3 separate regions of the Homo sapiens genome follow, and regions 2 and 3 are each linked to region 1. Evidence: fine-mapped expression QTL. A gene starts in region 1. Each other region holds a variant in brackets. All regions are shown on one strand. Distances are between the middles of the regions.

Region 1 (9,710 bases):
CTTTTTATTCAGGGATGGATGGTCCTGCTGCTGCAGGGTTTGGCAGCCCCCTCCCACCCCTTGTCTTTCCCAGTGTCCAGAGCCTGGGACTCTGCAGCGAGACCCAGTAGAAGGCCACTTGGAGCACCTTTCTGACGGCAGTAGTGGTGGGGGATTCTCTGCATGCCCCGGGGGCTCTGTACGAGTGCTGGCTGGGGGAGGGAGGAGGTGTGGGCAGAAGGACCAAGCATTGGAGAGGAATCTTCTGATGTTGATAACCACAACTCCTATTATGAACTTCCTCTCAGACAGCTATTTGCTAAGAATTTTAAATTTATTAGTTCATTTGATCTCAAAACTCGTCAAGGTAGGTATGACTATCCCCATTTTACAGATGTGGAAACTGAGGCTCAGAGAGACATTAAGTGACTTGCCTGAGGTCACACAGCTAAGTGGCAGAAACCAAATGAAAACTCAGGTCTTGTCTGATGCAGAAGCCAGAACAAACCTCCGTACATTGCTAGAGATGGCAGGGCCCTTGAATGCACCCACGTCTCCCCACCCCTAGCTGACCTGGAAGGTCCTGCATCCCGCCCTGCTGGGTGCCACCAATCGTGCTTCCCCAGCACCCTGGCCCCACCCCGACTCTGCAGGAAACACAGGGCTCTGAAATGATCCGTGACTTGTCTGCCTCTCCCACAGGTCTGTGAGCACCTCGAGGGCAGGGCAGGGTCTTATTCATCTCTGTGTCCTGAGCCCAGAGTCAGGCACATAGTGGGCACTTAAAGAGCATTTCCACATGGAGCTTGGATGCTTGAGCAGCTCTCCCTCAGACAGGGGCCAGCTGTCTATCTATGGACCCTCACTCTCTCCCCGACAGCCCTGCAGGGACCAGAAGAAATGATCCTTCTTTTTTTGTTGTGTACTTGTTTACTGTCCTCCCAGCCCACTAAAATGTCAGTTCCATGAAGGCAGGAACTTGTCTGCCTCATTCACTTCTCAGGGGATAGAACAGTCTTGGAATATAGAAGGGGCTCCATAAATGTTTGTTTACAGACTAATTTTTTTTTTTTTTAATTGAGACGGAGTCTGTCACCCAGGCTGGAGTGCAGTGGTGTGATCTCAGCTCACTGCAACCTCTGCCTCCCAGTTTCAAGCGATGCTCGTGCCTCAGCCTCCCAAGTAGCTGGGATTACAGGCGCACGCCACTATGCCTGGCTAATTTTTTTGTATTTTTAGTAGAGACGGGGTTTCGCCATGTTGGCCAGGCTGGTCTCGAACTCCTGACCTCAGGTGATCCACCCCCCCCCCCTCAGCCTCCCAAAGTGTTGGGATTACAGGTGTGAGCCACAGTACCCGGCCTGACTGACTAAATAAATGAATGAAATATTCGTGGAATGAATGAGCCAGGATTCCTCCCTGCTTTTCTCTCCTGATCTGATGGAGCATCTCTGTAGAACCTGAAGAATGTTCTGGAGCTAGAGTCACGCTCCTGCCACATGTCCTGGGTGCTCTTCAGTCAGGCCCTTAAGTGGTCCTGTGGGGAGGGAGGGGAGCAAGATCTGGTCCCTGCTCTTAGGAACCTCATTGTTCTGTGCAGCATGTTCAAACTGGAGGTCACGGGCAAAATCAGTGTAGTGCCCTGCAGTCAGCAATAACAAAAAGAAATAGGATAAGATAGATTAGAGGGCCGGGCGTGGTGGCTCACACCTGTAATCCCAGCACTTTGGGCAGCCGAGGCAGGTGGATCACCTGAGGTCAGGAGTTTGAGACCAGACTGGCCAACATGGTTAAACCCTGTCTCTACTAAAAATACAAAAATTATCTGGGCGTGGTGGCGGGCGCCTGTAATTCTAACTACTCGGGAGCCTGAGGCAGGAGAATTGCTTGAATCCAGGAGGCGGAGGCAGCAGTGAGCCGAGATTGTGCCACCACCACTGCACTCCAGCCTGAGACTCTGTCCAAGGAAGGAAGGAAGGAAGCAGGATGCATCCAATGCAGTAAGGCTAAGCATTTTTTTGTGAATAACACACATTCACATATCTGTGTAGCTGGCCCTGGTGTAAAATGTATTTCTTACTTTGGGTCTTGATAAAAAAAAGGTTTGAACCTTGTGTATGAATTTGGGAGTCGGGGGACGTAATCCTTAGGCTTAGACCCAAAGAAGGATATAATCAATAAAATGAATAATCCTGCCCATAATATGATGCCGATAACTGAACATGTATCCTGCGCCAGATGGGGATGCTCAGGTCCCAGGGCCTGGCAGGGAAGGGAGGGGAAGGATTCCAGAGTGGACAGAGATCCCATGGGCAGATAGGGGAGGAGTCCAAGGCAAATTGCCTGGAGGAGGAACCTGAACTCAGCCTCCAAACACCCCTCTGCCCTGGCAGGTTCAGGGCTAGGTCATGGTGTGAGCTTGGGTGGCAACAGTAATGACAGGAACAGCAGTCATCAGTAAGTACTTGCTGAGTGCCAAGCACCTTTTATCCTCCAGACTTTCCCAGGAAGCAAGAACTGCTCTTTGCATCATTTTACAAATGAGGAGACTTGGAGCAATGTGGTAACTTGTAGCATAGGGGTCACATGGTGGTAAAGTTGCTGTGGCTAGATCCAAGCCCAGGTCTGCCCTGCTTAAAGCCCTTGTCTTTAGGATTGCACACAGAAGGGGGCTGAAAAAGTGGGAGTGCTGGATGCTGGAGATGGGGCAGTGGGCCTGGAAGGGCGGATGGCCAGGGCAGACAGGGGATCCGTCTGTGTTGGGATTCAGGCGTCACGGATGAGTTTGCCTGAGGCTCAGAGACCACTGGGCTCAGGGCGAAATCACAGGCCACAAGACTCCCACCCTGAAGGGTGCACATGATCCCTGTTCTTGGCAGTAAGGTGGTCACAAGGAGCAAGGCCAGCCCATGTCCTGATGTTGTCCACTCCTCAGGTCCAGTGTCCCTCAGCTGTGGCAGATGTCAGGGAAGAGTGGGGAGTAGAGAAGAGCAGCAAGGGCCTGTTTCCCATCTTTGATCAAGATTCATCTTTGCTGGTTTGAACCCAGCTCCTCTGCTTTCCAGCGAGTCATTTGTGCCTGTCAGGAAATCATTTTTGGCTTGAGTGTTCCCTGGAGGGAATCTGGGGTTCCCACAGCTCATGTTTTTGCCCAGGAACTGAACTTGGGAGCTCTCTCCCAAGAGCACCAGCACCTTGCTTGGGCTGATGGGGCAGTGGATGGCCACAGGCGAGTCTGTCGGGGCGTGAGTAACAGGTTACTCATATTCTTTGCAGCAGCAGCTTGTCTGGTTTTGGACGGTTGCAGGTGCTTTGTGTGTGTGCTACACGTACACACACATACACACATGCTCACTTATAAAGCCACACTCACTCCCACTAGACACTTGCACAAACATGGATCCCTGCAAATATGAGTTCACGCACGAGCAATACAAGCATGATAACATGGTGTCTTGGACGTTTGTGTGTGGGGGATGTGGGTGCTGGCAGTGCTGGTGGAGTGCTGGGTGAGTGGGGGTCAGTCCCGACCTCTCTCCTTCCTGAGATCCTGTTCTGGGACCCATGAATCTTTTCTCAGGGGATTTTGGGCTTCTGCTCTGAGCTTCCAGATTTCTCAGGAATCTTCTGCTGCAGTTTGAGAGGCTCAAATGGGCTCAACTGAGAGCTGGCTCGACTGATTCTTTCGTTCTGCCTGGGGCTGGGGAGAGAGCAGGATGCCTTCTCTTGGGTGTACCCAGGGCTGCTCTGTGGCCTTCTCTCCTTCAACATTCAGTCCTTGTTCCCCTCCCAGGCCCACGGTGGGGCAGATCTGACTGAATCTTTCTTGTGGTTGGGACTTTTCTAGCCCCATAGCCAGCAGACAGCCAGGGCTGCAGGACTCGCTATTCTGAGTAGGGACTTGGCAGGCCCTCTGGGGGGCTGGTGGTGGGCTGGTGAGGCTGGGCACTGTGGTTTGGATGCAGTCTGTGGCCTGACCCTGAGGAACCTCCAAGCCCTCAGCCCCCTACCTACCAGCTGAACCCTGAGGCTAACTGTTAGATCCAGAAGGGTTGTGACTGCAGGCTGTCCTGAGAACATCTTTGTCCTGGGCTTTTCTGCTTGGTTCAACAAGAACACCTACTGTGTGTGTGGTGAGTACAAATGAATGTATGGAGACGTGCCAGGCACTGTGCTGTGGGCCAAAAGACAGGTCAGGCACAGGTAGGACATAGCTTTTGTTCTCTGGGAGCTAGAGAGGCACACCGCCGTGGATCCCAGCATCTGCTGGGCAGGGAGGGTGAGGGGAAGCAAAGTGTGTGTATTTGTATGTGTGTATTATGTGCATATGTGTATGTGCTATGTTTCTGTATGTATATATGTGTGCATGCATCCCTATAGGTATGCATGTTTATGTATATATTTGTATACATATATGTGCATGTATGTGTATACATGTGTGCATACACATGCACATGTATGTAAATGTATATTTTGCACCTGCTCACACACATGTTGCTCCTACCTTAGTCCTGGCCTAGAAGAGGACATTATCCTGGAATGCATCCTCAGGATGGCAGGCTTCAGCTGGGGAGTCTGACAGCTGGTGGGATGGGATATGGGGCTGTGGCAAGAGGAAGAAGGAAGGAAACTGTGGCCCAGGATGGAGTCCTAAAGTGTGCCACACACGATGCCTGGACATTACTTGCCCAGCTCACTGGCTTCTCAAATACCTCTTTGAAGGAGGATGAAGCCATCTTATGGATGTAGAAGTTGGGAATCTGAGAACTTACGTCACTTTTCCCAGACCACACAGCCAGTAAATTGTGAGCCACTTTGAGCCTAGCTCTGCTGAACTCTGAAGGTCAGGTCTGTTTCCCAAGGCCACTATGGGATTTTCTCTGCTGCTGTCCTTTTCACACACCTTGGGTGGCGCAGGAGCAGGTATGGAGCTGAGGACAAGTCTTCCCTGGGCCTGTTTCCTCATTTGTTAAAATAGGGATCAGAAAAGTACCGACCTTATAACTTCGCGAGGCACTTAAGAGCTAGGTGCTAGGGACATGGTGAGACCACCACAATGAGTGATTTCTCTTGTCTTCAGTTATTCTTAGGGGTCATGGGGAATGTGTTCCCCTCTCCCAGCCCAGCGCTCTCCAGCCTGACAGAGGTGGGGCCTACACTGCCTGCATCCTGGGGCAACCCCAGCTCGCCGAAATCCAGCTCCAGTCCTGAATGGGGGTGAGGCAGGTGGTAACAGGTGAGAAAAAAGGATTTCCCGAGTGTGGAGCAGCGAGAGGGAGGAAGTGACTCACCAACCACAACAAAGCCTATCTCTCCGCGAGGAAGCACAGCGAAGAGTGAACGCACGCACGTGGGTGCGTTCACCCACGTGCTCGCGGGGGCGTGCGGGGCCGTCGGAGTGGGCCGGGCTGGCTGCCGCCTAGTGCTAGTCCGCGCGTGTGGGGTGAGGAGTGGTGGGGGGGGCAGGCCTATGGTGCGGGTCACTGCCTGGAGCCGCATGATGGGTGGGGGCGGAGGGACCCCTCTCCATCCAAAGCTCTGCTCTGCTGTTCCCCTCTCACCTCTGGGGGCCGAGGGGCGCGTTTCCTTAGGACCCCGGGGCGTGGGAGAAGCCCCTGCTTGGGGGGACCGTCTGCTGTTTAGGGGCTCCCCTTCGACACGTGGGAGGCAAAAGTGCAGAGCGCACCATCATCCAGCTCCGGCCGCACTGCACAGCGAGGCCGGCCCGGAGCCCGGATGCTGGGCTCGGTCCCGCCGAGGCTCGGCCTGGCTGTAAAGCAGAGGGGGGCGAGGGAAGCCGGGCCAGCGGGTGTCGCGGGTAGCCGGCGTCCGGGACGGGGTGTGGCGCCCAGAGCGCTGCTGCCTCTCGCAGCCAGGAGGCTGGATGTCGGGTTTGGGTGTCTTCCAGAAGGAGCCGCACTAGCGACGAGGGAAGAGGAACTGGCTTCCCGGGCAGTCTCCCCCGCCCCAAACTTTTCCTCCTCGCGGAGGGTGGGCGGGCGGAGGGAGGAAGCGCAGCCGGGGAACGTGGCGCCCGCGTTCCTCCCGCCCGGGGGCTGCGGCTGGGCTGAGTGTGTCTTTAAATCTGAGCCCCCCGCCCCTCGCGGTGGGGCCGGGACTCGCGGTCCGGGCGGGGGCGGGCGCGGTGATTGGCGGCCGGGTCGGGTCCGCCCCTCGGCGTTGGGTAGCGGGGCGCTGGGGAGCAGCGCGGCGCGCACGGGCCGGGGCGCGCAGGTCCCGTCGCCGGTGAGCACGGGCTCCCTCTCGCGTGGCCTCGCCGGGTCCGCCTGGCCTGCCCACCTCCGGAGCCACCTCTGCCCCCGCATGGGCTGGCGAAGTTGGGAGGAGCGAGCTGGAGCCAGAGCGCGCGCCGGGCGCGCCCCGTCGCTGCCTGACTCGGCGCCCGCAGTTCGGGCGCAGCACGCCGGCCGCAGGAGCACGGATGCCCCCCGGAGCCGCGGGCTGGCAGGTACCGAAGTGTCCTGCCCTGGGGCTGGCGAGGGGAGGGCAAATCTGGAATCCCCCGGGCACCCCCCAGCCCGAGGCTGCTCCAGACACCAACTCCCCATCCTTTGGAGAGGTGAGGTCCTGGGCCTTCACCCCACACCCGCTCAGGATTGGTCCCTGGGAGGCAAGAGGGACTCACAGGGAGCAGTTGCTGGGTGGTTGTGTGTGTTGGACCCTGGGCTACCCCCTCTCCCGAGTTCCCTGGGTTTGGTGTAGGCATGGCCTGGTGACAATTCCACTTTTCATTGCCAGACCTGGGAGCATGGCCAGGAGCTAGGGTTTCCCGCGAAGTTAGGGGGAGATTGGGGAGAGGGAAGCCGCTTCATGACCGAGATGGGGTCCTGGGACTCATCTCTAGGGGGCGTGAGGCCCTCAGACCCAGGACGAGTCCAGAAGTCTCAGCGGGCACAGGCTTTGATTCTTGGCCCAGTCTGGCCCTCTTCCTCTGTAGGCCCGGGTCTCCAAGGAGAGTACGTTTTTCAGTTTCAGAGGGTTTTCCTGAAGGGGCAGTAACCTGTCAGAGAGAGAGTGGCCTATGGGAGACCCGGCTCCTGAAGGTGGCCGGGATGGTTGGAGCCCTTTCTCTTGGGTTGTCAGAGATGGGAGTAAAGCTTCATGGCCCAGGGAATCTTCTGGGCATCTCTACTCTCCCAGCCAGAGGCCCAGGAACCAACTCCTTGGCTTCTGGGTAGAGTAACCTGAACCCAGTGGCCGAGCACCTCTTAAATGCCAGGAAGGGCACTGGGCCGTGCCCCTGGAATGTGTGGATGGAGGAGGATTTGGAGGATTCTGTCCTCAGGAGGCTCAGCCCCTGGGGGCAAGACAGGACATAAACACACAAAGTTCCCCGATACAGGGTTTCAATACCAGTCCTGAACTGGTAATAGTGGAAAGCCAAGAGGCTACACACCATTAATTGCTATGTGAGTAATGTAGGCTGCGAGAGTGCCAGGGCAGCAGAGATCCAGTTCCATGCAAGCAAGCAAATGTGCTGAAATGTTCCAGCTCCATGCCCGCCCTTCCTTATTACCTTGCTCCAAGGGCAGGGAGCAGCAGGGGCGCTGAGGAGGTTCTCCTGCACTCATCCCCACCCACTCCCAGGTTTGTTTGTTTCCTGCTGGTGGATTTCTGAAATAACCCATTTGGTTTCTTGGCTTGGGCTGAGCACAGGACACTCCTAGTTGCCCTGTGGCTCCTGGGGTTTGGGGTCTAGAGCCAGCCTTGTAGGAGGTTCAGAGGTAAGCAGGAGGAAGTCCTCACTTCCTTTCTGAAGAGCCTCTGTCGCGGGGGGTTGGGGTAGGTCGGGAGGCTGGCAGGCACTGGGCCAGTTTCCTATGAGTGCAGACAGACCCCAGGTGGTGCATGCACCCCCCTCCCTTTCCTGGCCAGTGTTGGGGGTGGGCACAGTAGGGCCCAGGTGGCTTGAGGTGGGTGGTTCCTGGCACAGCTCTGACCTCACTTCTGTGAGGCTCTGCTGTATCTGGGGCCCTGCCCCCTCCCTCATTGTCCCTGGCAGGTTTCTGTTTTTCTGGAGCACTTCGTGGAGGTGGCAGTGTGCTCATGCTCGTGGCCTTGGGTGCAGTTCTGGGAGTGGGAGTTGCTGAGCTCACCCGAAGCCCTTGGCTGGCACTGTGAGAACTTGTGTGAACACACTTGCCTGCCTCCAAACAGGTGGTGCACAGACCTGGGTTACCCAGGCACCTGTGGGGGATGCCCCGTGTGGGCAGAGACGTGAGTGCGTGTGTGTGCTCAGGTTTACATCTGTGTGGGCAGAGACGTAGAGGAGCTGGATACATATATACTTGAGGACAGACACAGGAGGATGGTGGGGGTGAGCAAACAACCCAGGGACACAGACATGTGCGGGGACAGACATACATGAACCCATCAGCGTGGGCCACGTATGGGCTGCAGACACGTACATAGAAATACACCATTGCTGGGATCTGAATCTCCCCACATGGGAGGCAGACATGTAAGTGGACAGACATATAGGTAGACCCAGCAGAGCACAGACGGGGATGGGAACCGACATTCCCAGACAAAAGACTCGGAGCCACAGGGAAGCCGCTCAAGTGCCTGGGCAGAATGGAGTTGGCTGTGAGCTCCTGGGGGGCACAGACACATATGCTTGCCAGAGCCAGCGGACAGCAGAGGCCAGGAACCAGACACAGGTGGGTTCTGAGAGGTAGGCCGAGGCGTGCATTGCCTGGTTATCACTGTTTCCCTGCGTGGCACAGTGCCCGGAAGTTGTCCTGTTTGGGGTGGTGATGGTACAGGTGCTCTGTGGTGGAGCTTATTTCTAGACTCTCACTTTGGGGTTTGAGGACCCCAAAAAGCTCAGTCTCCTGTGTTTTACTCAGAGTCATTTGGCCTCTCCACCTCTGCATTACAAGGCTGTGTTTGTGCCTTAAGTGCCAGCAGGTGCTCTTTGAATTTTGATTCTCATCTTCCCTGGATCTCCAGAGGCTTCCTGAAGTGAGGCTGTGTGGCCTGGGTAGGGTGCTCCAACTGTTCCTTTCCTACCAGAATAGGAGAGGAACTGTCTGGGGATTCTCCTTCTGAACCCAAGCCTGCGGGTCTTTGACAGGGATCCCCCAGGTGAGAGAGAGAGCACACATGTAGCTGCGTCTGTGATGAGAGCCACTGCCCTCTGGGGCGGGCTCCTTCTCTGCTAAGCCGTGGGCTTGCACAGGGAAGGGGTCCCCCACCTGGCTATGCTCAGGTCTCCTCTGCCCAACCTGGCACCTGAGAGACAGCCCAGATTCTAGATATGCTTTGATACTAATGCACCATGCAACCTCCAGCAAGTCAATTAATGTATTGGTTTCCTCATCTTTAGAGTGGGGTCAGTAACCTCTACCTCCTTGTGGGTTCAGTGGGAGAAAATCAGTGCAAAGCATGTGGCCCAGTGCATGGCATGGAGTGAGTGCTCAGTTGATGTGGCGGTGGGGGCCTTTGATTATGAGCCATCCCCTGTGGCCAGGACTCTGCAGGGCTTCCTCAGCAGCCAGGTGCATGGCCCTGGGCCTCTGGGTGAGGTCTGGAGCAGGCTGGGTGGGCCAGGCACCTCTCCTGTGAAAGCTGGAGGGCTTTGTCCTCAGTCGGTGCCCACTAGTCCCTCCTTAGCCCTGTGGGACCTCCATACACGGGGTCAGGAAATGGCAGGCTGGGCGGGCGTATGGAAGCTTGGGCCTGCTGACTGCTGGGCCTCTGGGAGGGGA
Region 2 (9,710 bases), 66 kb after region 1:
CAGGGAGGGTTCAGGATGGCCCTGTGCCCCTGAATTCCTCGTCTCTCTGCCTCGGGCTGCAGTACCCGCTGGCCTTTGCCCTCAGTTTCAGCCGCTGGCTGTGTGCCCACCCTGAGCTGTACCGCCTGCCCGTGACGCTGAGCTCAGCAGGCCCTGTGGCTCCGAGGGACCTCATCGCCAGGGGCTCCCTAGTGAGTATGACTGGCAGTCGGAGAAGTGGGCATGGCTGTGTACTGGCCCTGGCCCCTAAACACTGGATTCCTGTAGGGTTGGGGTAAGCATTGCCCTTGCAGGAGGTGAAGAAGAGAGGCTGTGGGTGTTGGGATCCTCTTGTGAACAGAATGGGGTCATGCTTAGGCCCCAGCAAGCATTTGCAGCTTTGGCAGCTGTTCTGGTACCTTCTCCTCAGTCTCAAACCCAAGAGCTCTGGGCAGGGTTCTATGATCTTTGCCTCCAGCTTCTTCTCTTTGAGCCTCAGCTTCCTGGTCCAGAGAGTGGGCACCATTGCACTTCTTCTTGCCAGGGCCGGGGGAAGCTCCAAGTGTGCAGGAGTGCTTTGTAAACTGTGAAGCTCGGGTTCCACCCCACCCCCCGTCTGCCTTGGGCCAGGTCCTGACCCTTTCTGCGGCTACAGTCGGCTGCTGTGGGTCCCAGGCTTGGTGCTCTCCCCACAGCGGGAGGACGATCTGGTCTCCCCGGACGCGCTCAGCACTGTCAGAGAGATGGATGTGGCCAACTTCCGGCGGGTGCCCCGCATGCCCATCTACGGCACGGCCCAGCCCAGCGCCAAGGTGACCGGCCCTCAGGGCCTGGGTCCCCCAGTGGGTTTGGGGAGGGAGGGCTGAGCACTCACTGCCGGCCCTCCTGTGCCCAGGCCCTGGGGAGCATCCTGGCCTACCTGACGGACGCCAAGAGGAGGCTGCGGAAGGTTGTCTGGGTGAGCCTTCGGGAGGAGGCCGTGTTGGAGTGTGACGGGCACACCTACAGCCTGCGGTGGCCTGGGCCCCCTGTGGCTCCTGACCAGCTGGAGGTGAGGCCCCCTGCCCTCTAGGCACCCCTGCCTCCGAGGCTTCTGGGGAGTGGCCTGGGAGGGTCTTCAGAAGGCCTCACACTCCCGCAGACAGATGGAGAATCTGAGGCCCCGGGAGGAGCAGTGTCAGGGAGTGGCCAACTCAGGATTCCCACTAAAGTGCTCTGCTAACCTGCTTGGCTTTGGGGGGTGGCTGTGACCCCTGAGGCTTGGGGGGGTCAGGGATGGGACTGGAAGCCAGGGCCAGGCCTGGCCATGGCAGGCTGTGGCCTTTCAGGGCTAGCCTAGAGCCTGCCCCAGTGGCCTGTGTCCTCCCTCCTGCCCTTGCCCAGACCCTGGAGGCCCAGCTGAAGGCCCATCTAAGCGAGCCTCCCCCAGGCAAGGAGGGCCCCCTGACCTACAGGTTCCAGACCTGCCTTACCATGCAGGAGGTCTTCAGCCAGCACCGCAGGGCCTGTCCTGGCCTCACCTACCACCGCATCCCCATGCCGGACTTCTGTGCCCCCCGAGAGGAGGTGAGGGTGCTGCTCAGGCTGAGGCCTCTGGGGAGGGACAGGAGGCCTCCCTGTCTCCCCTCTGGTCTGGGCTCTGGGAGAATGAAACGACCCCAGCTTCTCTACGGGGCCCGGGAATGGTCTCACGAGGTTTTCCGATTTGGCCCAAGTGGTTTATTCACATTCCTTCCAAGCTTTGTGTGTGTGTACGTGTGTTTATTATGTGTTATAGGGTATATGTGTGTGTATTGTTATAGGTGTGTGTGTATTGGAGTGTGTATTCTGTTACGTATGTGCATATGTGTTATAAGATGTGTGTACATGTGTTTATTATGTTGTAGGGTGTATGTGTGTGTATTGTGTTATGGGTGTGTGTTATAGGTGTGTGTGTGTTATCGGGGTGTGTGTGTATTCTGTTACAGGTGTGTGTGTGTATTTGTTATAAGGTGTGTGTGTGTGTTGAGGGTGAACATGTCCAGGGTGTCCGTGGTGTGTGTGTCTCAGTTGGGGGACTGTGTATGGAGTGTGTGGGTGGTGTGTGGAATGTGTGTGTGTGTGCATGTCTTTTTATGGAGTTTGTGATGTCTCCCTTGTCTGTATTGGGGGCTGTGTGTGGAAAACCATCTTTAGGGGAGTGGTGTGGTGTGTGGTAGGGTTTGTGGAGGGGTCGTTAGGAATGTGTGTGTGTGGCATCTGTAGGTCTGTGACTGTGGGTGTCTGTATAGTGTGTGTGTTTACCGGACGTGGATCCCTGTGTGGTGCGTGTGTCTGGCGTGTGTTGTAGGTGAGCCACCGTGTGCGTGGTGCGTGTGTTGTAGGTGGGTCGCTGTGTGCTGTGTAACTGGCAATGGGGTCTGTTACCCTGCCTGAGCCCCTCCTGGCGCATCTCTTCGCGGCTCTCACTGCCTGCGGTCTGCTGCCTCCTGGTGGCCTTGTGCTGCAGGGCTCTTCTGAGGTCAGGCCCCCGTCCATGGTGGGACCAGGGCTGGGTCCAGCTCAGGTGGGTGGCAGGGCCAGCAGTCTATGTGCAGCCCAGGGGCGCAGTACACAGGGGTGACATACAGGTGCATGTCCTGCCTGATGGAGGGTGGGTACCTTGAGCCCCAGGTGCATGCTGTGTTGGCTCACACATCCTGTCCAGGTGCTTGGTGTGAGGGTGATTACGACTGCACAGGTGCAGCTGTTTACACGCACATGGTCTCATGCACCCCGGTGAGTTTTGTTTGTGTGTGCAAGCTTGGGAGCCTGACAATTTCTGGCCCGAGGACAGTGGCTGGGGCTGCCATGTGGATGGGGACCCTGTTGGGGTTTGTGCATCCAAGAGACGCCCGCTGACCCAGACCTTGCTTTTCTCGTCCAGGACTTTGACCAGCTGCTGGAGGCCCTGCGGGCCGCCCTCTCCAAGGACCCAGGCACTGGCTTCGTGTTCAGCTGCCTCAGCGGCCAGGGCCGTACCACAACTGCGATGGTGGTGGCTGTCCTGGCCTTCTGGCACATCCAAGTACGTGTGGCCTCTCAAGTGAGATTAGAGATTTGCCTGGAGGAGGGTAGACACTCAGGTCCCAGGCACACTGGCTCCACAGGAGGGTGTGAGGGGCAGAGACAGCCGGGTGTGGTCCCAGAGCCCCTTCCATCAGTCTTGGGCAGCCCCCAAGTCCTCCCCAGCAAGGGGCTCCTGGCGTTGGGAGGGGGCTTCTGTCTCAGCAGCTGTCTTCCCTCAGGGCTTCCCCGAGGTGGGTGAGGAGGAGCTCGTGAGTGTGCCTGATGCCAAGTTCACTAAGGGTGAATTTCAGGTGAGCATGCCCTGCGGGGTCCCTGAGGCACCTTGGGATGGGAGGAGGAGGAGGACTCCTGCTTGCCGGTCTAGGGGTCCTCAAAGCACGTCCCAATGCAGTCACGTCTGCCACCTCATCATATCAGTGCTTCCCTGTTCCCATTTTATAGATGAGCCCAGCAAGGCATGGGACAGCTTGGCTCTGAGGCCCTGGCAGACGGCCGGCTATGGAGATGTGGGCTGGACCCCTCCCTGCCCGGCCTTGCTGTTGGGCTGCTGTGTGCCTTGGGGAGGTCACTGGCCACCGTCTTGTCTGGGTAATGTTGATAACAACCTCCCAGCACCTTCAACCCAGCTGTGGTTGGTGACCTTGTGTGGGTCCCCAGCCTACTTTGCCCTGCCTGTTCCTCTATTTCAGATTAGGGCACTGGATGGCCAGCCACAAACATTCCAGATTTAGTCATCCATGTATTGTGCACCTGCCACATGCCACAGGCCATCTTCTCAGGCATCCCGAGAGTCGTGGCAACGTCCCTCGGAGTTGGCCCATGGCTGACCCACAGTCAGCAGCACAGTTGGCTCGTGTCTTACTGGTTAACTTCGCCACTTGCCCCTCCCCTGCCCTCGCCCCAGTCCTGAGGCCCTGACCGCCATGCAGCACCTCACACTTGCTAAGCTCTTGCAGCCTTTGCATATGCGGTGCCTTCTCCCTTCCTTCTTCTGGCTGATTCTCTGATTCTTTCCTTTTTCCTTTTCTTTATGTGGTAAAATATGCATAACATAAAATGTACCATTTCAACCATTTTTAAATGTACAGTTCAGTGGTGTTAAGTACATTCACGTTGTTGTGCAACTGTTGCCACAACCCATCTAACTCCTTCATCTTGCAAAACAGAACTCTGCTCTCCTATTCAGTAAT[G/T]ATTCCCCATCCTCCCTCCCAGCAGCCCCTGTTCTACTTTCTGTCTCAATGGATGTGACTACTCTAGGAATCTTCTATGAGTGGAATCGTACAGTATTTGTGTTTTATGACTAGTTTATTTCACTGAGCATAATGTTCTCAAGGTTTACCCACATTGTAATATGTGTCAGAATTTCTTTCCTTTTAGAGGCTGAATAATATCCCATTGTATGGATAGACCACATTTTGTTTCTCCATTCCTCCATCAAGGGACACTATTTGCTTCCACCTTTTGGCTGTCATGAGTAATGCTGCTATGAAATGCATAGTGCACGTAGCTGAGTCCCTGCTTTCAGTTCTTTTGGGCATATACTCAGGAGTGGAATTGCTGGATCCTATCGTAATTCTGTTTACTTTTTTGAGGAACCACCATGCTGTTTGCCGCAGTATATGCACCATTTTACATTCCCACCAGCAACACACAAAGGTTCTGATATTTCCACATCCTCACCAACACTTGATTTCTTTTTTCTGTTTTTTTTAGAGATGGGAGTTCACCGTGTTGGCCAGGCTGGTCTCGAACTCCTGACCTCAGATGATCCACCCGCCTCGGCCTCCCAAAGTGCTGGGAGCCACTGTGCCCAGCCGTTTTTTTTTTTTTTTTTTGGATAATAGCCATCCTGCTGGGTATGAAGTGGTATATTGTGGCTTTGATTTGCATTTCTCTAATGATTAGTGATGTTCAATATCTTTTTATGTGTTTATTGGCCACTTGTATATCTTCTTTGGAGAAATGTCTGTTCAAGTCCTTTGTCCATTTTTGAATTGGATTGTTGTTGAGTTTTGGTTCTTTATATATTCTGGAAACTAATCACTTATAAGAGAGGTGATATGTAAATATGTTCTCTATTCTGTGGGCTGACTTTTTACTCATTGATAGTGTCATTTGATGCACAAAAGTTTTTAATTTTGATGTAGTTTGTCTGTTTTTTCTTTTGTTGCCTGTGCCCTTGGTGCTATATCCAAGAAATCATTGCCAACTCCAATGTCATGAAGCTTCTCCCTTGTGTTTTATCCTAAGACTTTTATAGTTTTTAACTCTTAGGTTTAGGTCTTTGATCCATTTTGAGTTAGTTTTTTTTATATGGTGTGAGGTGAGGGTTATCTAAGTTTATTCTTTTGCATGTGGATATCTGGTTTTTCCAGCACCGTTAGTTCAAGAGTCTGTCTTTCCCCATTGAAGGGTCTTGGCACCCTTGTTGAAAGCCAGTTGACCATATGTATAAGGGTTTTATTTTCCAGCTGAGTTTAGTCTTTGCATCGGTGCCTTGAATGTGATGGTCAGGCCTCTCCTTCTTCACACCAGGCCCCGTGCTGGGAGCTGTGTGTACTCCCTCTGTCCCCTTTCCCAGCTCCCAGGAGGTAGGTGCTTTTACTGCTCCCAGTTTATAGATGAGAAAATGAGGCCTGGGGAGACAAGTTTATTACCCTAGGGCCACATCAGAGAGGTGGGGCTGGGGTATAAGCCAGGCTGTAGACCTCAGAGCCTGTGTTCCAAAGTTACATCATATGACCTGAAGACACCCCTGTACACCCTATCCTCACCCACCCCCAGATAATCTAGACCAGCTTCCTTTGCAATTAGTTCAGCATTTGCTGAGCCCACAGTCTGTTGGGGAGAAAGGATCAATAGAGCGTGAAGAGGCCCAGAGCAGACACTGGTTCTAAGGGCCAAGAGTGCAGCTGAGGGAGCCTGAGAGGACTTCATAGAGGAGGCAGCATTTGAGTGCCTTTGGGGAAGATGAGTGAGTATCCTTGGTGAGGAGGGGAGTGTCTGGAGGGATCAAGTGTGCAAAGGAGGGATTCTGGAAAGGGCAGGAACTATGTAAGGCTGTGATTTGTCAGAAGGGAAGCAGGCAGGACTGAGGGGTGGGGGCCCATATTGTGAAGGCCCTGGAGGTTTGCACTATGTGTTTGACCTTGACCGTGAGGCCAGGAGGGAGGCAGAGGAGGTTGTGATCAGGCTCTCAGTCTGGGGGCCCCAGCAGGCAGTTATATGTGGACTGGGGAGTGGAGGGAGAGGCAGGAGCTGAGTGAGGAGGGGCTGCAGGGTGAGCAGGAGCAGCCCAGTCCTCATTGGTAGGTCTTGAGGGCTCCTGGATGTGGGGTGAGGAGGGCACCTAGGATGACCTCGAGTTTCTGGCTTTGCAGTAGTGACAGCTGTCGATGTGGAATTCAGGGGAGGAACAGCTGCAGCAGAGGCCAGGAGTTGGGTTCCCTGTGAAGAGCTGCAGCCCTCTGTCTGAGGTGGCCCCCAGAGGACGCAGTTCCCTGCACCCTCCTGGGGACCTGCCTAGAGCTTGGGATTGGGGATGTGGACTGGACAGCTCCCTCCTACTCCCCTGGGCACAGCCTGAGCCAGATCTGCCACTAGTTCCTTCCAGACTGTTCCTTTTTCTCCTCCCACTTGGTTGCAACTCCATGCCTGCTGGGGTGCCCAGCACCAGGCCAGGACTCTGAGAAACGCAGGAGTTGGGGAAAGGCCCTTCCCTGTTCTTAAGTGGCAGCCAGAGAGAGAAGAGAGCGAGTTAGGTGTTCATTCATTCACTGGGCAGCTGATGCTGGGGCACCGGGCAGGTGCCAGGCACCACTCCAGGTGCCGGCAGAAAGCCCCTCACTTAGTGGGGAGCAGGTGTGAAAGTGGAAGCAGATGAGCAGGTGGCTGTCGACCACGGGACAGGGCGCTGTGGGGACCTTGCAGGGTGGTGGGGGTAGGTGGTGGGAGGGGTTATGGGTGATGCTGGAGAGGTAGGCTGGACCCAGTGGTGCGGGGAGCCTTTAGACCCCAGTTTCTGTGCTGAGTGTAAGAGAGCCATGAAGAGATCAAAGCCCGGGGATTATACAACATGGGTTCACATTTATACTTTCGTAAGACCTCTCTGGCCACCAGGGAGAGGGAGGGCGGGGAGGAGGTGGAGACGCTGGTCAGAAGGGTACTGCTGTGGAGGCAAAGGGGGATGGGGGTCTGGATCAGGTGCCAGCTGTAGAGAGGTGCAGTGTAGACAGATTTGGAGGGGAACTCAGCACAGGGTGGCTGGGAGGGCCTGTGGGGGAAAAGCCATAGAGTAACCTAAACAGGCTTCAGTTTTCCCAGCAGTAAGGGGCAGATTATATCATTTTTTTTCTTTTTTCTTTTTCTTATTACTCAGAGATGGGGTCTCACTATGTTGGCCAGGTTGGTCTTGAACTTCTGGCCTCAAGCGATCTCCCCACCTCGGCCTCCCAAAGTGCTGGGATTACAGGTATGAGCCACTGCACCTGGCTGGGGTGGGGAATTATATCAGATGAGTGGTGTCCAACTCTGAGCGTCTGCGCAGTGGCTGGGGGCTGCTGCAGGTTAGGAGGAGGGTGGGGAGGCTTCTTACACCCCCTCCTCACCCCTCCAGCCCTAGTACGTGACAGCTATCTGTTTTATAGATCAAAGTTCTGCATGAGGCCTCATTTGAAGCAGGATTTCTACTGCTTAAAAAATAAGCACCTCGACCAGGCGTGGTGGCTCATGCCTGTAATCCCAGCACTTTGGGAGACTTAGGCGGGTGGATCACCTGAGGCCAGGAGTTCAAGACCAGCCTGGCCAACATGGTGAAACCCTGTCTCTACTAAAAATACAAAAATTAGCTGGGTGCGGTGGCAGGTGCCTGTAATCCCAGCTACTCGGGAGGCTGAGGCGGGAGAATTTCTTGAACCTAAGAGGCAGAGGTTGCAGTGAGCCGAGATCTCACCACTACACTCCAGACTGGGTGACAGGGCGAGACTCCATCTCAAGCAAAACAAAACAAAACAAAACAAAAATAAGCACCTTAGATCAGCTTAACATTCCATGGGTGCATTGGGGTGGTTTTTGTATCATGTAATACAAAGCATACAAAATGGCAATTTGGAGTCACAGTCGTGCATTTAATATGTCTTGAACATCTTAAATGACTTATATTCCCATGGTTTTTTTTGTAGAATTATTTCTAATGTAAACCACTTCTTGATTGTGGCTCTCCTGTGAGAACTGTGTGCACTCTGTGATGTCTTTGGCTGTGGCAGTCCCGTTTTCCTAGTAACTCTATTGATGTGCTTGGACACTGAAAATCTGTGTAGTGTGCAAGACATTAAGTTGTGGATTGGTGGGGCTTATGCCACAGTTTATCAACACTTGAAAATACTGGTACTTAATATCTTCTTAAAGAACAATTTGCCTCCAAATTTTAAGCTGGAAAGTTAATGGAATAACTTTCCAGCACTTTGGGAGGCCAAGGGTGTGGATTGCTTTAGCCCAGGAGTTCGAGATTAGCCTGGGCAACATGCCAAAACCCCGTTTCTACTAAAAGTACAAGATATTAGCCAGGCGTGGTGGCATGGGCCTTTAGTCCCAGCAGCTCAGGAGGCTGGGGTAGGAGGATCACCTGAATCCAGGAAGTTGAGGCTTCAGTAAGCCCTGATCATGCCACTGCACTCCTGCCTGGATGACAGAGTGAGACTCTGTCTCCAAACAACAACAACAACAACAACAATAAATGTCAATGGAATAACTAAAAAGGAATCATAATCCATGCCTTTTTTAGATATTCGGTACAAATTCAATGTCTGTGTACTGATCCTCAACACAACCAATAAATCCCAATTGTGGAGGAAAAAGAAAAGCATCTGGGTAGCCTGGCCCCGGAGATGTTCAGGATCCCCCTGTCCTCCCTCAGTCTGAGAACTGAGGAGCAGGCAGGGCTCTCTGTTCAGCGCCTGGGCCTTAGGCCTGGTGTGGCCTTTTGGTGAGGGTGCAAGCCTGGTGCTTGGGCTGAGGGCTCTTACCAGTTTTATGTCTGCTCACCCCCCTTCTCTGGCCCCAGGTAGTAATGAAGGTGGTGCAGCTGCTACCCGATGGGCACCGTGTGAAGAAGGAGGTGGACGCAGCGCTGGACACTGTCAGCGAGACCATGACGCCCATGCACTACCACCTGCGGGAGATCATCATCTGCACCTACCGCCAGGTGAGCCCCCACCCCACCCCACCCCACCCTGCCCCAGCCACCCTTCCAGGTGTGCACAGCCAGGGAGTGGCTGATGTGGCTTTGGGGTTGCTAGGGGTCCTAGGGGCCCCTCCTTGGCTCGTGGTCACTTTTCCACCTTCTGGAAGTGGAAGTGATCCATGAGATGGACACATCCCCAGCCCCGACCCACTGGTATGGGTACCAGATTCTGGAGTGGTAGGGGAGATGCATGCAGGGGCCATGTTCAAAGCATTCAACAACTGCTGTGGCCCTAGGACCAATCAAGGATGTGGCCAATCAGAGTGAACACCCAGGAGCCCTGTGGTGCCAGGCGTTAACCCTCTTGTTTCTGGGTCCTGGCGGGGGGACCAGAGGTCCCAGACAGGAGTCAGGTAGTGGGTGGGTGGAGACCCTCAGGGTCTTGGGGTGGCTGTTTCACAACTAGCACGGAGGCTGTCATCTCAGGACGTGGGTATGTCTG
Region 3 (9,710 bases), 360 kb before region 1:
TAAAGGGACTTTTAAAAACTTGTATTTGAAAATACAACATTAGGACAATTTGGTATTAAATTCTGGGATCTCTGTCCATTATAAGCCCTCAATCCCACTGCTACACACAGCCTGGACTGGCTTCCTTTTCCTGGGATTGGATCATTACTTCCTGCTGGACACAAGGCAGGAGCTCCTTGTCAGGGAAGGGCATTTGGGAGTAAATGACAGGGAATTGAGGACACAAAGCAACCACCAGGCCTGGCCACTGAGTCTCCTGCTCACAAATGGAGGCTTAAACACACATCAGTCCACCTCTGCCACCTCCAGCCAGCTAAATACGCAAATACTGAGCTTTAAGAAACGAGGCCATGTTACCAACCCCACTCCCCAGTCAATCCAAGCTCAAGAGACCAAATGTTTTGATCTGGGTTTGGGGGCGGCAGCACGCCTGCCAAGAGAGGAAGGCCTGACCCTGAATTTCCTCTGTCCTCAGGTGAGGGGGAAAGAAACACCACCAACCTTTGTCATCTCTCTGACGCCTGTTCCCATCTCTTACCACTAGGGGGCGGCCCTAATTTCAGAAGATTCTGGTCACCTTGGCCACCTGGGGCCGAGCCATGGTCACAGCTGAGGAGAGCTCAGCAAGGGTGGACCCTCACTGAATTTAAAGTCTGAGCTGTTGGGAAGAAAGGGGGAAGGCAGCAAGGTGTGGACTCCTGGGGGCAAGCACTGCAGGGCATTCAGAGGGTACTGGAGAGCAAGGAGGCACAGGGGAAGCCCGGCTGGGCACCTGCTCACCAAACGCTTTGCGGTAGGCGGAGCTGTTGATCTTGATGCCGGTGCAGAGAATCACCAGGTTGGTGGCCACCTCTGTGCCTTTGTCCGTCTGCACTTTGATGTACTCTCGATACTCATTGAGAGGCAGCTCCTCCAGATTGCTCACCCGCTCACCTAGAAGGGGGTTCATGACCAGGAGGCTGGTGGGGACAGGGACCCCATCAAGCCTGGACCCCAGGCCAAGGCTAACCCTGGGGAGGGCCTGGACCTCTGGGGCCCAACTGGGCAATGGCTGCACCCTGTCTTCCCACCATGCCCCTCCCTCAGTCCACTCTATGCCCCACAAAGCTGATCTGGACATCTGGCCCCGAGGGGTCCCTCTGGAGAAAAGTTCCAAGAAGCCCCTGGAGGGAAGCGAGGCTGTTTCCCAAGAAGTTCTCAGAAAAGCTGTTTAATGGAAGATCTCAGACGCGCCTCTTATGAGTGCCAGCCGTGCCATCCTAACTAGGCAGGACGAGCGCTCCAAGTGCACCACGACAAAGGGGAAAGCCAGAGAAAGAGAAGCCAGCTCGCTACACTCACTGCCTAAAGTGACAGTGACGGCAGCACTCCACAGCCAGTTACCAAAAGGAGGCTGAGGCAGCCATGCGGGCCCTTCACAGGACAGGTGCCTCACCCTCCCGCAAACAGTGAGGGGGCTGGGGCCCCATGCAGTGAAGTGTAGGGGCCACAGCGCTGGAAGAGAACCTCACTTTCCAGCATTTGCTGGGTGGGTCTCGTCCCCTGCTCTACAAGAAGGCCACACTCCTCACCACTCTCAAAACATAAACCAATAAACCTATTCCCTCAACCACAGAGACATCCTATTTGGGGCAAATCCTTCAGATGCACTCAAGAAAAATCATTCAGCAGACAGGCATCCCACCATCTGCACTGCATCCAAAGCAATAACCAGGACATGGAAATCCCGTAAGTACCAGGCCCTCTTCCCTGCCCAGGGACGGGCACAACTTCCAGCTGGACAAGGCTCAGATGGGCTTTGATGTTCACGGCCTCTTCTGAGCGCTTCATGCTCCACCCCAGGACACAGTGGAAAAGAGAGAGCCTGGGGTGGACCATAGCCACCCTCCTGCTGGAAGCAGTCACCAAGCCTCCAAGCCACATCTCACCAGGCCAGGGCAGGGCAGGGAGGGAGGTGAGGGTGCACGTACTCAGCAGCAGCTGCACGCCCTTCCGGAGGAGGATCTCCTTCACTTCCTGCCGGACGGAGGGCAGGAGCTCCTTGTCAGCCAGGGCCACTTGGGAGTGAATGAGAGTGACCTGAGGACAAAACGACCACAGGGCCTGAGAAGGAGCCCCCAAGTCTTCAAACACAATCATTGCACGAACGTCCACCTCCACTCATACCTCCAGGTTACAGATGAGGAAACTGAAGCTCCAGAGAAGTAATCTGTCCAATGCCAGGACCAATTAGTGGTGAGCTGGGCTTAAGCCCACATGTTCTAGACTAGGACTCTTTCAGTACCCTCCTGCCACACCCAGGCCAGAGGACTACCAATATGCCAACATGTCACAACCTACACCTCACCTAGGGCCACCTGGAAAATTATCTTCAAGCATCCTTGGGCACTTATAATTATACAAGCCATGGGCATTCCAACAGTCAATCAGACTGATGTCAACATTAAAGCTTGTTTAAAATTAGTGCTTCCAGGCATGTCTACTTGCTGTCTGGGACAACACAGGGAAGCGTCCCGGGCACCTCATGTTGCAATCATGTTCAAAGCCTGGGCTTTGGTATCAAATTGCCTGGGTTGAAATCCCATCTCTGATACTCACTTGGACACCTCCCAAAGGCTCATTAACATGGGCACAATAGCCCCACTCATAGGAATTTTGTAATGATGAGCAAAAAAATACGTACAAAGCATGTAACTCAGCACATATTAAGTCCTTAATAAAGGGTGGCTGCTACTACCCTTACTGTCTACAAATCCTAAACATGTGGATATTTTACTGAGTTACTTGAACTTTTTTACTACTTCAGACTGGTCTGACCCCTGTGAAATAAGAAGAAAAGTATATATTGGTCTCTGCCCCCAGTTCCTGATGCAGAGCTCTTAAAACCCTTGTAAATTGGGGTACTAAGAATCATTTGTTCTAATATTTGGTCCTCATTGCCGGTTCTTGATACAGAGCTCCTGAGATCTTTGTAATGT[C/T]CTGAGTGATGGGAGGGTCTGACATAGAGCTCCTAACTCCTTGGATGTTCCCGGGTGATGGGAGCATCTTTTGTTCTAATGAAGCTACTCCTGATGGGCTCCTGGATGATCGCTGGTCACCAGAGAGACCAAGCCAGCTTAGAAGTCTGGAACTTTCAGCTCCAGTGACGAGAGGGGGCTGGAGATTGAGGTCATAATCAACCTTGCCTACCTGATGAAGCCTCCATAAAAATCCCTAAAGTACAGGGTTCAGAGAGCTTCCAGGTTGGTGAACATGTCCACATGCCAGGACAGTGATGCACCCCAACTCCATGGGGACAGAAGCCCCTGTGCTCAGGACCCTTCTAGACCACGCCCTATGTGCCCCTTCATCTGAATGTTCATTTTTATCCTTTAAAACATCCTTCGTCATAAATCAGCAACAGCAAGTAAACTGTCTCCCTGGCTTCCATCAGCTGCTCTAGCAAATTATTTAACCCAAGGAGAGAGTCATGAGAATCTCTATCTTGTAGCCAAGTGGGACAGAAGCGTGGGTAAGCTGGGGACCTATGGACTTGCAACTGGTGTTTGAAGTCGGGGCAGGATCGTGGGACTGAGCCCTTGACCTGTGGGGTCTGCGCTAACGCCAGGTAGTGTCAGAATTGAATTGAACCGTAGGACACCCAGCTGGTGTCAGAGAATTGGTCAGTGGGGGAAAAACCCACACATCTTATCCCAGAAGTGTGGAGTGAGTAGGGAGAAAAACAGTTTGGTTTTTCCCTATAGAACCCTCATACATCAAAATGAATGAATGTAACTAGATCAATCACTCATCATAATTTCCAACAATTTGTCAGAGAACAGCCATATAATTAAGTTATCCTCTATTGATTTTTCTTTTCAAAACCAACCTGCCTTTCCCTGAGGAAGAAAGATCCATTCAGAGGCCCCACATGGCTCTCAGAAGCCGATCTGGCTTCAACCGCAAGCAAGCTCTCGCCTAGAGGACCTGTAAGGACGTTTCTCACTCAGCCCTTGCCAAGCCTGGACAGGGTGCCAGGATTTCCTCTTTCTCGCTAGGTTGCCCGGTAGGATCTCTGTCTTTTGAGCATGAGAAAGCAACAGGGCAGGCTGATGTCCCCTCCCCGTTCCCACCCATGGGCAGAAGGCAGTGCTGTTCAGTCATTGCCCAGCGTGGGCAGAAAGGGCTCTGCTGCAGGCTCCCCACCACCATGGGGCTGCTCAGAGCAGGGGCTACCATATCAGGCAGAGACCAAAGCAACAACTGAAGGTGTCTTTGTCCAAGCTGGTTGCCAGCAAGAGGTAATCAAATACTGGTTGCCAGCAAGAGGTAATCAAATATACATTTGTATCACAAAGGCCTGAATTCTGAAGGTGACACAGAAGTTCCGCTTTTGCAAGGTATTGCCCCTGGGCTTGATCCTCCAAGTTGGAGCAGAGGGCAGGACCTTTCCTTGAGAAAGGACACACCCTGAGCAGCTCCGTAAGGTCAGGTGCAGCAGGATCCCAGCTCTGCAGGAAAAATCCCCTATAGAATCACACCTTGGCACAAAACAGAAATACACACTCCCAGTTTATGTGAATAGAGCTCCAGACTTCTCTGCCCTGAGCAAATTCCTGATGTTCCTAAGATAATGCAGAAAAAAGCCAACCACTTAGAGCTCCAAGGCAAGGCAGCCTGGCTCACCTCTTTCTCAGGATATTCTGTTTTAATCTCTGCTGCCATCTCCACTCCAGCCGAGCCTCCTCCCACCACCACGATGAACCGTGAGCGCTGGACCTGGAGAAGAGGACATGTGAAACAGGGACATATGAAACACACCTACACATCCACCTCTGTCTGCTGGTTCAGCCTGTGGTGTGGCTCCCTGGGCCAAAGGAGGGCAGAGAACCCTTTCCACATTTTGAGTCCAAACGTGCTTCCTCCCACCCACCTCGCAGAATTGCTGTGGAAGATTGTGGATCTAAGCCTGCTCTACAAAACAGAGCCTTATGAAAACAGGAGTGGAAGGGACCCGTGAAAAGCCCCAGGAGAGGAAAGTCAGAGACATACCAAGGGCAACATGAGCAGGTTTAGGGTGCTCACATCCTGGCTCCAGCAGCAAGTTCAAGGTCTCTTCCCAGGAAAGTCTCTTCCTAGTGACTCTCCAACTCTATGGCTACAGCCAGCAGCTCTGAGTAACCCCGTGGCCTCCCAGCTGCAGGCCTAGGCATCCCCAAGGCTGTCCTTCCATCTGCCCACACTGCCCCATGCCTTCAGTGCACAGCTCACCTGCCTCACCATGTCCTCATAGGCCTGGATAGCGGCCTGCTGGCTGGAAACCTCATTAAACTTGCCCGGGAAGGGCCCAGTGCTGCCCGTGGCCAGGATAAGATGAGAGAAGGGCAGGGCCTGAGAGAAACCAAAAAAAAAAAAAAAAAAAAAAAAAAAAAGATGAGGGTAGGGCAGGGCAGGGCAGGCCTAGGCCTCTGCATCCTACTCCCGGCCTGCCAGCCGGGACAAACCAGGCAAAGAGGCCCCTCTAGGCACCCGAGGCAGCCCCCATGGGAGGGGGTGAAACCACCACACTGGTTAGCCCAAAGGATGGCACTAGAACCTGGGGAAAGACCTAAGGAAGTAGAGTTTACCTCCGCGTGGAGAATGTGGGGGCAACTGGAGCCACCCAGCATGGCAGTGGGAGGGGTGCCTGGAAGCAGGAGGCAGGGCTGCAGGATAGGACACTGCCCACGGGAGTTAGCTCAGAACCTCCCGGGTGTTTTAGAAGAACCCTCCTCCTGCCTCCGCCAGGAAGAAAAGAAAGGGAAAGAAAGAAAGACTGATCAGTAGTGGCATCACATCTGTGAACAGCCACTGCACTGAGCAACATACCAAGACCCCATATTAATTTAATTTTTAAATTAAAAATAAATAATAAAATAATTTAATTTTTATTAAATATTTTATTAAAAAATAATTTAATTTTTTTAAATTAAAAATAAAAAAAATTTTAGGCCGGGCACAGTGGCTCACACCTGTAATCCCAGCACTTTGGGAGACCAAGGCGGGCGGATCACCTGAGGTCAGGAGTTTGAAACCAACCTGATCAACATGGCAAAATCCCATCTCTACTAAAAATACAAAAATTAGCTGGGCGTGGTGCCATGCGCCTGTAATCCCAACTACTCAGGAGGCTGGGGCAGGAGGATCGCTTGAACCTGGGAGGCAGAGGTTGTGGTGACCCGAGACCATGCCATTGCACTCCAGCCTGGGCAACAAGAGCGAAACTCCATCTCAAAAACAATTAAAAAAATTTTTTTTTAATTAAAAAAATTGTAAACAAAGAAAAGGAAATCTTGTTTGGAGCCTAAATATATAAAGTTGACAAAAACAGAGCTGCTCCAATGGGAGGGGCTGGAGGGCCTGGACTCCACTCAGCCCCTACTTTCCCCTGAACCTCCAAGATGCCCTCATGGAATCTTCCAGGGCTCTGAAACGCATGGCTGGAGACTGCAGGACCAGGGGACACTCAGTAATCTTTCCAACCAGGAAACTATCTGGCCCCATTAATTCAAGAAGGGCTGGGTCACACGAAATCACAACTCATCAAGGAAAGGAATTGTGTTTCCTTTTGTCAACGCCCCCTTAGCTTCAAACACCAAATGGGGCTGGGCTGGACATGACACTCATCCAGAGCTGGTGGCAGCTTATCGATGGAGCTGAAGTCATGGCAGGTGTGTTCCAGGCTCCATGATGCACATGTGAGGTGGGGGAACACACAAATGAGTGAAGGGAAACCTCTGCCCCAGTGACGTCCCGATCCGGGGGATGTGGGACCATGCGTGTGCCTTTTTGTTCTAGACAGAGCCGAGGGCTGGCCAGGCCTGGGAGTTGTCTGGGACGCTGGCTTTTAGAGCATGGGCTCTGGGCTAAAATTGCATGGGTTCAAATCCTAGTTCAGTCTCTTACCAGCTGTGGGATCTTAAGCAAGCCATTTAACCCTTTAGCTTCTCTGTAAAATGAAGTTATACCACCTTCGCCATAGAGGCACGGTAAACATTCATGAGACTTACGTAAAGGCTACAAACAGGGCCTGGCATGCAGGAATTACACAAGAAATATCTGCCACCATATTCTTGTGGTTGCTGTGGTCAAGCCTTTGTTTATGAGGAATCCGCTATCTGCCCAGCACCAGGCAGGGCTTGGGGCTCACAGACAGCATTCTCTTTTTTTTATTTTTATTTTTTGAGATGGAGTCTCTGTCTGTCACCCAGACTGGAGTGCAGTGGTGCAATCTCAGCTTACTGGAACTTCCACCTCCGAATTCAAGCAATTCTCCAGCCTCCTGAGTAGCTGAGATTACATGCGCCCACCACCACACCCAGCTAATTTTTGTATTTTCAGTAGAGACAGGGTTTTGCCATGTTGGGCAGGCTGGTCTCAAACTCCTGACCTCAGGTGATCCGCCCGCCTTGGCCTCCCACAGTGCTGAGATTACAGGTGTGAGCCACCGCCCCCAGCCTAGCTCTCTCTTGACCCTGGAGGATCCCGCCCAGGCCCTGCAGAGGGCCCTTGAGCCAGCTGGCAGCCGGGCTGGCCCTCACTCACCTCGCCACCCTGCAGCAGCACCATCTGGTTCTTCAGGTCTATCCCCACTACTAGCCCCTGCCGGAAGTTGTCCTTGAAAGTCACCGAGTAAGAAATGAATGTCTTTTTGGCGAACCCTGGGGAAGGGACACAGAAGAGGTCATAGGGCAGAGCCAGGCTGCCCACGGGAAGCCAGAGTGACTCAGAACCTTTCACGAGCTGCAAACCAACAGGGGTGCCCTTGACCAAAGCGTCGGGCCATTAGGTATGCCTGGGGTACCCCTACTTCCTAAAATGCCAATCTGGGCCTCAGACCGTCAGAAAAGCTCAAGCTTTTACTTCTAGGGTCTCATTGTGGTGGCTACTTAAGACCAAAGACCTTGAGCTTCTCCAGAACTTGTCTGACAGTGGAATGCAGGCACTTGGCCCTAAATGGAGAAAACCACCCCCAGCCCTAAAATCAAGCCCCAGAGCAGAGACAAGACCCCCCTCACAGAGACAGCCCCAGACGGGAGCACATTACCTGTCTCCACGGAGGCTCGGAGAGCAGCCACATTGTGGTGGAAGGAGTCCTTCATGTCCACCAGCATGAAGGGGACGTTCAGGGCCTGCAGCTGGCTGGCTGCTGCGATCCCGCCAAAGCCCCCACCCACAATCACCACGTGCAGAGCTCCCGATTCCACCGAGACCTGGGACCCCATCTCAAATCAGGCACTGCTGGGAAGAAAGAGGAGAGCATATCAGAGTCAGGGAGGCTGGGAGGGCTGGGAGGACCCACAGTGAGAGAGGCCTCGATCATGAATTGACCTTTTTAGATGAGGTAAATCTTTGATTAATGAAACTCCAATTTTATAAAATTTGAATTAAATTCAGAAGGAACAAGGGGGTATCCCACTTCCAGCCCATTCCCCAAACACCAAGTTCCCTTCTCCAGAGGCATCCACTGTTACGTAACAAGTTTGGATGACTCCTTCCAGAGATAGTTTATGCAACTATAATCACGATTATTTTTTGCACCCATTAAACAAAGTGTTCTGCACATTTGTTTTTTACTTGATATATTCCATCAAAGACTTTTGGGAGAGATTGCAGTGGGGCAGGAGGAAAAAAAAGACTTTTGAAGAGGGGAATAATGTTCACTCAACAACATATATGAATTGAACTCCTGCTTTTTGACATGCTCTGTGTTGTGTATCCTGTGGTCAGACAGGCAGATATGGTCCCTGCCCTTATAAGGGCAGACCTTACAAAGTCAAAGAACCAGGTGGGCAATGTCAATGATGTGAGAAGCTGGGAAAAGGTGCAATAACAAGAAACAGTGGGCACACCTGTGGGGAACCAGCAAGCATAGGCCACATCTAAAGGAACAACAAAAAACATTCTTTAAGCACTGCACTAAACAAACACCGCAACCAGATTCAGCCCAGCTCACAGGTCACCAACTTAAGGTCCAGGTCTAAGGAGGTCAATTAGCAGGTTACGACAAGAATCCTGCAAAATTCTGCTTCTAGGGTTTGAATATGTCTCCCAAAAAGGAACAGTGTTAAGAGGTGGGGCCTAATCGGAGGTGTTTGGGTCATACGGTCTCCACCCTCATGAATGGATTAATACCAATTATAAAAGGGCTTTGAGGCTGCAAGTTCAAGCTCTTCCTCTCTCTCGCTCTCTCTTTTGCCTTCCACCATGGGATGACTCAGCATGAAGGCCCTCACCAGACACTGGGCCCTTGATCTTGGACTTCCCAGCCTCCAGAACCATGAGCCAATACATTTCTGTTCATTATAATTACCTAGTCTGTAGTATTCTGCTGTAGCAGCAGAAAACAGACTAAGACAAATGTGGTGTGAACTAAGACTGTGATCATGGAGTAGGAAGGAGGGGCCACAACCATATGCTACAATGCCTGGCTAATTTTTTAATTACTTGTAGAGATGGGGCTGGGTGTAGCAGCTCACGCCTGTAATCCCAGCACTTTGGGAGGCTGAGGAAGGAGGATCTTTTGAGCCCAGGAGTTCCAGACCAGCCTGGGTAACATAGAGAGACTCTGTCTCTACAAAAAAAAAAAAAAAAAAAAAAAAAAAAAAAAAAGCCAGGCGTGGTGATGGGCACCTATAGGCCCCGCTAATTGGGAGGCCGAGGTGGGAGGATCACTTGAGCCAGGGAGGTCA

Alleles and levels. Positions count from the first base shown, and alleles are read on the strand shown. Sizes are in standard deviations (SD) of each study's normalised expression. Not every link is listed here.
With allele T in place of C in region 3, the expression in prefrontal cortex of the gene that starts at base 6,156 in region 1 is lower (large effect, 0.82 SD a copy in ROSMAP).

The links. PIP is the estimated chance that this variant, and not a neighbour inherited with it, causes the effect.
Region 2: its variant is fine-mapped to the expression of PALD1 in whole blood (INTERVAL, PIP above 0.99).
Region 3: its variant is fine-mapped to the expression of PALD1 in prefrontal cortex (ROSMAP, PIP 0.95).

What each region holds. Positions count from the first base shown.
Region 1 is chr10:70,472,612-70,482,321 of GRCh38, forward strand. It overlaps PALD1 (phosphatase domain containing paladin 1), which reads left to right and starts at 6,156. Exons shown (of 20, transcript NM_014431.3): 1 at 6,156-6,448. RefSeq lists enhancers at 357-1,123, 3,862-3,941, 7,486-8,128, 7,772-7,951, 8,129-8,770 and silencers at 5,772-5,841, 6,042-6,491.
Region 2 is chr10:70,538,218-70,547,927 of GRCh38, forward strand. PALD1 (phosphatase domain containing paladin 1) reads left to right here. Exons shown (of 20, transcript NM_014431.3): 12 at 63-191; 13 at 675-791; 14 at 875-1,030; 15 at 1,363-1,545; 16 at 2,885-3,025; 17 at 3,246-3,317; 18 at 9,089-9,229. Among named protein-coding and RNA genes, the nearest start is that of PRF1, 60 kb to the right of the region's middle. RefSeq lists enhancers at 1-60, 61-746, 3,668-4,168. The variant G/T (reference allele first, on the strand shown) is at 4,218.
Region 3 is chr10:70,115,842-70,125,551 of GRCh38, forward strand. It overlaps AIFM2 (AIF family member 2), which reads right to left. Exons shown (of 9, transcript NM_032797.6): 2 at 8,066-8,256; 3 at 7,564-7,679; 4 at 5,251-5,370; 5 at 4,666-4,758; 6 at 1,971-2,079; 7 at 781-933. The coding sequence starts at 8,243. Among named protein-coding and RNA genes, the nearest start is that of AIFM2, 12 kb to the right of the region's middle. The variant C/T (reference allele first, on the strand shown) is at 2,979.